Homo sapiens: one gene and its partner. The protein of the gene in region 2 interacts with the protein of the main gene of each other region in a pairwise test. Each region holds a gene or a part of one and is shown on either strand. Other genes may lie near its edges.

Evidence for each region.
Region 1: the proteins of C1orf94 (region 2) and CHERP interact in binary tests that used the Homo sapiens proteins (3 or more experiments, as listed by UniProt).

Annotation. Positions count from the first base shown.
Region 1 is NC_000019.10:16,535,938-16,539,437, reverse strand, and holds part of CHERP (calcium homeostasis endoplasmic reticulum protein), read left to right. Parts: intron 1-3,500. UniProt on the Homo sapiens protein: Involved in calcium homeostasis, growth and proliferation.
Region 2 is NC_000001.11:34,197,407-34,200,906, forward strand, and holds part of C1orf94 (uncharacterized protein C1orf94), read left to right. Parts: coding exon 1-507; intron 508-3,365; coding exon 3,366-3,500.

The DNA.
Region 1 (3,500 bases), on a different chromosome or scaffold from region 2:
CGGTGGCTCACGCCTGTAATCCCAGCACTTTGGGAGGCCGAGGCGGGCGGATCACGAGGTCAGGAGATCGAGACCATCCTGGCTAACACGGTGAAACCCCGTCTCTACTAAAAATACAAAAAATTAGCCAGGCGTGGTAGCGGGCGCCTGTAGTCCCAGCTACTTGGGAGGCTGAGGCAGGAGAATGGCGTGAACCTGGGAGGCAGAGCTTGCAGTGAGCCGAGATCGCACCACTGCACTCCAGCCTGGGCGACAGAGCGAGACTCCGTCTCAAAAAAAAAAAAAAAAAAACCGTTTCTAAAGGCAGCGGGAAGCCACAAGAGTTTTAAACAAGGGAGAGGGTGGCTTGGGTTGTGTGGCCGGTGGTGTAGGACAAGCTACAGGGACCAGCCTGGGGAGCAGTGAGGCCTGCAGGGGAGCAAACAGGGCAGTTGTTTAGGTGAGAGATGGTGGGGTCTGAATTAAGTCAGTAGGTTGAGCCTGAGGGAGGGAGCATGGGGGGCAGGTGGGGTGAAGGGGTAGAATCCATGAACTTGGGCGCCAGTTGCATATTGACGACCTGATGGTGTAATGAGCAGGGGAGGAAGACACCTCAGACGGTGCTTTGGCTTGGGTGACTGAGCTAAGGGCTGCTTTCCCTTTCTGGGGCGGGGGGGTGGCCACTTGGAAGCTGGTGCCATTATGAGGAAGGAGAGGGTGCTTATGCTTATAGCCCAGGAAGATTGAAGCCAAGAAGTGCTTTCTTTTTTTTTTGGAGATGGAGTCTTGCTCTTGTTGCCCAGGCTGGAGTACAGTGGCAAGATCTTGGCTCACTGCAACCTCTGCCTCCCAGATTCAAGCGATTCTCCTGCCTCAGCCTCCCAAGTAGCTGGGACTACAGGCGTGCGCCACCACACCCAGCTAATTTTTGTATTTTTAGTAGAGATGTGGTTTCACCATGTTGGCCAGGATGGTCTTGATCTCTTGAACTCATGATCCGCCCACCTTGGCTTCCCAAAGTGCTGGGATTACAGGCGTGAGCCATCGTACCCAGCCAAGAAGTGCTTTCTGTGGGTGATGATATCTTGGCTAGATGTAAAGGGTGTGTTGGAGTTGGCCAGGTGAAAACAAGGGGAGAAAAGTGTTCCGGGCAGAGGAAGGAGCCCTTGGAGGGAATGGGGAACCCAGAGCTTAGGGTGGCTGAAGCCCAGAGTAGGAGGGGTTCTTGGAGTGGCCAGAGGTGGGGGTGCAGAATTGGGAGCCTGGCTTGGGGAGGAGTTGGAGGCCTGGCTTGGGGAGGAGTCGGGGACCTGGCTTGGAGAGGAGTGAGGAGTGTATCCTGGAAGCGTGGGAGAGACTCGTGGAAGGTTTAGGTCTGTGTTGTGAAGCTGGGTTAGCCACAGTACAGCCAGTTCTGCACCCCACGCCTTAAAGCCTGGGCCTCAACTGTTGTAGAATGGAGCTTCACGAACTCTGTGGTGAAGGACCATTTCTGGTGTTGTGTTTTAAGTTTCTAACCTGTTGTGTGTGGACCAAAACTTCTGCAAAGCACAGTAACAATGTGGACCGTGAACCATCACGCTGCTAGAAAGGTTTTGAAATGCTCCCTTTCTGGTTCCATAACCGTCTGTCACCGCTGGGTAGCCCAGGGACCACTCCATAAGTGGCAATACCATGACTGCCATGTCAAAAAGAGGTAGAGGGATGGGACCTGATGCAGGAAGACCGGTTCTGGGGTGACGCAGGTGACAGCAGATCCATGGTGGTGACAGCGGGGACATAGACTGATTGGAGTGATGTCTCGGAGGCCGCCTTGACACTATGTGGCTCGTCACTGGGAGGCACATGCTACTTCTGGCCTGGGTTTCTGGGCAGATGGTGGTGCCAACCATGGTGCGGGGAGCACAGGAGGGGACATAGGTGTAGGGGGTGAGAGGAAACACAGGCCCCTTGGAAACACAGTGGGCCGTGCAGTTGGTGGTTAGGGCCAAAGCTCAGGAATCCAGAATGGAGATGATGGATTTAGGAATCACACCATGCACAATCGCAGCCACAGGAATGAGTAGCTCATGTTGCCCGGCGGTTGCGTAGAGCGGAGGACAGGGCTCAGAACACAGGCCGCGCACCCCAGCATGTGAGGGTCCAACGGGAGAGGGGTTGGTAAAGGGGGAGAAAGGGACTGAGGGGGCGAACACATGGAGGCCAAGGGAGGCAAGCACCTGCGACAGGCCCGGGGGGCTGAGTTGAGTGAGGGTGTCCTCAGCTGCCTGGGGGAAGGAGGGGGGTGCGGGGAGTGGCAAGCAGGCACCAGGCTGAGATAAAGGGGAGGTGAAGATCTGGAGTGAGTCTTGTCTGAGAAATCGTTTAGAGAGGGATCATGGGGTAAAGGGAGAAGTTTCCAACCCAGAATATTCTGATGTGTTTATTTATTTCCTTTTTTATTTTTTGAGATGGAGTCTCACTCTGTCACCCACACTGGAGTGCAGTGGCGCCATCTCGGCTCACTGCAACCTCCACCTTGCAAGCTCAAGCAATTCTCCTGCCTCAGCCTCTCAGGTAGCTGGGATTACAGGTGCCCGCCACCACGCCCGACTAATTTTTTGCATTTTCAGTAGAGACAGGGCCATGTTGGCCAGGCTGGTCTCGAACTCCTGACCTCAGGTGATCACCCGCCTTGTCCTCCCAAAGTGCTGGGATTATAGGCGTGAGCCATCATGCCCAGCCCAATGTGTTTAGATGCTGCTGGGGAGGGACGGGTAAAGAGGGAGGAGTTGGAGAAATAAGAGATAGAAGAAATATCAATAAGCAGTGTCCCTCAGACAGTGGGAGGGGTGGGATTCAGTGCAGAAGTTGGGGGTCATCCTGTAGGGTGGCTTTGGGTGCACAAACTGGAGGGCACAGTCAGCCCCGAGACTTGACTTGAGCGCCCAGTGAGGGGCGACACCTTCCACCTGACACCCCACCTCCCTTATCTTTGGCTTTGTCCTGGTCCCCTTGGAGTGGGGCTCTGGAGGGCTCCAGGGGTACCTGGTCACATTTAGACCAGGCGGCCCCAAGACGGAGAGAGAGGCAGGTCATCTTGTCCAGGGCCTCCTTATGAGCCGGGTCCCTTCCTCAGAGACCTCACCACCTGCCCCATCTGGCCAGAGTTGGGACCTGCGCCCACCCTGACCCAGGCTTCTGCCGGCAGAATGGGTGTCTCACTGCTGCCTCAAACTGGATGCACCCCTGAATGCAGAGGGGTCTCTGTCCCCAAGGGCTGGAGAAGCAAGGAGAGTCAGTAGAAGGACAAGGCAGGTGTGGGGGAGGCCGCAGTGTGCGCTCGGGGGTGCGGCTTCGTGCCTTTCTGGCCAGATGTGCAGAGGCCCGGTGGCTGTGACATCTTAACAGTCAATGGGTAGCTTAAGTGGCAGAGGTCAGGGAGTGGCCGAGGAGGTCGGAGGATGAGAGGTACTGAGGCCTGGGTTCTGCATCAGGTGGGGCCTAGGTGGGTGAGGAGGTGGGCAGGCAAGCTTAGCTTG
Region 2 (3,500 bases):
CAGGCAGTAATGAGCGCCCCAGAGCCTCCATCATTGTCGGAGACAAGCTTCTGAAGCAGAAGGTGGCCATGCCCGTTATCAGCAGCAGGCAGGACTGTGATTCTGCCACTTCTACTGTCACAGACATTCTGTGTGCCGCCGAGGTCAAGAGCAGCAAGGGGACAGAGGACAGGGGCCGCATCCTAGGTGACTCCAACTTGCAAGTCAGCAAGCTTCTGTCCCAGTTCCCACTGAAGTCCACTGAGACATCCAAGGTCCCTGACAACAAGAATGTGCTGGACAAGACAAGGGTCACCAAGGACTTCCTACAGGACAACCTGTTCAGTGGCCCTGGACCCAAGGAGCCCACAGGGCTGAGCCCATTTCTGCTGCTGCCTCCCCGACCTCCTCCTGCACGTCCTGACAAGCTCCCTGAGCTCCCTGCTCAGAAGAGGCAGCTCCCAGTGTTTGCCAAGATCTGTTCCAAGCCCAAGGCTGACCCTGCTGTGGAGAGGCACCACTTGATGGGTGAGTGGGGTTGGAACTGGGGTAGAGTGGGCCTGCAAGGAGGAGGTCCTTCCCAGGAAGCCAATCAGGGCTGCAGCATGTACATAAAGCATCTTCATGCAAAGCAAGACAAAGCAGCCTCTCTGGTGGGCACAGCCCCGAGGGACGGGCTGTTTCCAGCCCCCACAGGCTTATTTTGCTGGGTTCCCCTGTGCAGGGCACAGCTTTTGTAAGCAAACCCAGAGGCCCTGATCTCAACATACTTTGAGAAGAGAAATAGGCGCCATGTAGTAATTGGCTTAACTTTGGAATCAAACGGGTGTCCAGAGTACATTGAAGGAAGTGTTTACCCTAGCTGGGTTCAGGGTGAAACTACAGCATGGAGATGCCAAGATGTATAGAAGAGAAATTTGATTGGTAGCTGGGGTCATTTGGCATCTATCTCATGGAGGTACCTTGAGGACATGAGGCCTGGTCCTCCCTCTCTGGGGTATTGGGTAGATGCGTAAATTATCCAGGCATAGTGCAGACTGTTGACTCTGGGATCTGTTTCCTGGGACTTACTTTATTGAGGAGCTCACATTCTTCCCAGGAAAGCCAGCCACCTCCCAAGCTTCTCCTACTTTATGCCCAGGATTCTGTGTGTTGTTCTGATCTAACCAGTCAGACTATATGGTTCCAAGAAGGTAGGCTGATGGCCATGGCCATTGCCTAGAGTCAGCAGTCACTAAGAGAGTGATCATACTCATGTTAGCCAAAAGAACAATTTCCTCTGGGCTATGAGCATGGATGGATAACTGAGAGACACCCGTATTGGGAGGGTCCAAATTAATCTACCTGAGAAAATAAGAGCAAAGTCATCCTGAACATTCTGTGTCCTGGAGCATTGCAGGAAGGCCAAGGAATCAGAGCTGTGGATAGCAAGCTGAACTCTGGGTCCTGGACAGGCTTCTAGGAGCCAGAGGGCTTTAGGATGGGGAGCTGTAGGAGAGAGACGGTTGAGCTCTTCCCAGAGAGGAGACCTTCCTCCTACCTCTTCTCCAGAAGGGACCCATAGATATTTCCCTGTTGGATGGGGCTGCTGGACTGGAGGCAGTTCTGGTCCCACCCACCCCACCCACCATTGGTGCATGTCTGTGTGTACGAATGTGTGAGCAAAAGTGTGCCAAAAGGAGTTTTGAAGGTTTTAGTGTATTTGTTAGAGAAAATGCAAGAGTGGTGTGTCTAAGCATGTCTGTGTACACATTTGTGCATATGTCTGTCATGTATGTACTTGTGTATGTGTAACTAAGTCAAAGGAACAACAGATAGGAGTGTGTCTATGTCTGTGTGCCCAGACCTGGGACGAGGGAGCTTCGTAGATGTTTAAGGCATCTGTAAATATGAGTGGGAAGCTGCAGGTGTGTGTGTCTCTGGGGAAAGGGCTATTATCAGTGGGTACTGTTATTTCAGCTCACAGGCTAGGGGCTGAATTCGGCAACCGGAGGAACTCCTGGAAAAGACTCTAGGGATGTTTTGCTAAAAATGTTGTTTCCTTCTAAATTGGCTCAGGCTAGAGCAGCTCTTTCCTTTGCTGGAATAGTGCTAGGAAGACAGCCTTAGCCCCGAAGCTCAGCCCCCAAGCCGCTGGGCTAGGGGGCCAAAAGCTGGTGGGATCTGGTCTATTATTATCAACAGGTAACACTGAGGCACAGGTCCTTTCTGGCTGCATCCAGACAGATCCCGGTGCCTGCTATTGGGCAGCACAGTGCACAGCCATCTGGTGGGTGGCCAGGTTTCCCACCACTGCTGTGGAGGATCCTGTGATGGTCCCCAAAGTATGTCTGCATTGGGAGAATAAATGCTCAGTCTCTTTAGTGAGAAACCTGTGTCTGCCACCAATCTTGTCCCTGCTCCACACTCTAGCCATATCCAGTGACTCACAATGTCTCCTTGATGCTTCCAGGCCTTTGCCCACAGTTATCCCTGCCTGCCATGCCTTCCTCCCCAATACCCCTGGATGTAAGGCCTCGCTGCAACCCTACTTCCTTCTGGAAGGAACCTTCTCAGACAGAAGCAGCCTCAGCCACCCTGTTCTCCATTTCTTCCCTCTGCCACCTCATGGTGTTCATCTACCTTATCCTGGGGCTATTTCTGGGCATGTCTCTCTTTTTTTCTTGTTATGAGCTCCTGCAGGGCACAGTCTAGCTCTGACTCACAACTGTGTCCCCAGCACTCAGGTCAAGGCCTGGCACTGACAAGTGAGCTGAATCACCTGTGAGTAATAAAACAAAAGTAGAATCCAGAATGAGAGACCAAAGTGTGTGGCTCAGACCACATGTTCTGTAAGAATGTGTGACTCCTTCACTAAGCCATGTGCTCACTGAAGGCAGGAACTGTGTCCACAACATCCTTGTTTTCGCAGCCTGGCACTATGGATGGTTGGAGAGAAGGAATAGTGGAAGGAATGAGGAAAAGTAAGGAAGGAGAGGAAAGAAAAGAAAGGTAATTCGAATAAAGGAATGATGGAAGGAAGGATGAAGGGGTGGATGGATGGAAGGAAGGCAGGAAGATAAAGATGGATAGTCAGACAAATGGATGGACAGATGGATGGATGGATAAGTAGACGGATAGAAGGAAGAAAGGCAAAGATGATGGACAGATGGGTGGATGAATGAACAGATGGATGGATTGATGGATGCATGAGATCGGGGGGCAGGGGCCAGGGAGGGTTTCAGGGAGAGATTGGGATTGTATTTGGCTGAAAGAGAGTCCCCCAAAGTGGTCCAAGCCTCAGGTGTGTGCTGCAGAGGATTCATCATTTAGTCCACAAAAAGGTGCTTCCAGCATCCAGCACTTGGCCTTCCAGAGGCATTGACTCAGTTTCTTTCCTGCTACAGAATGGAGCCCTGGCACCAAGGAGCCAAAAAAGGGTCAAGGGAGCCTCTTTCTCAGCCAGTGGCCCCAGAGCCAGAAGGACGCCTGTGGTGAGGAGGGTTGCTGTGACGCAGTGGGCACCGCATCACTGACCCTGC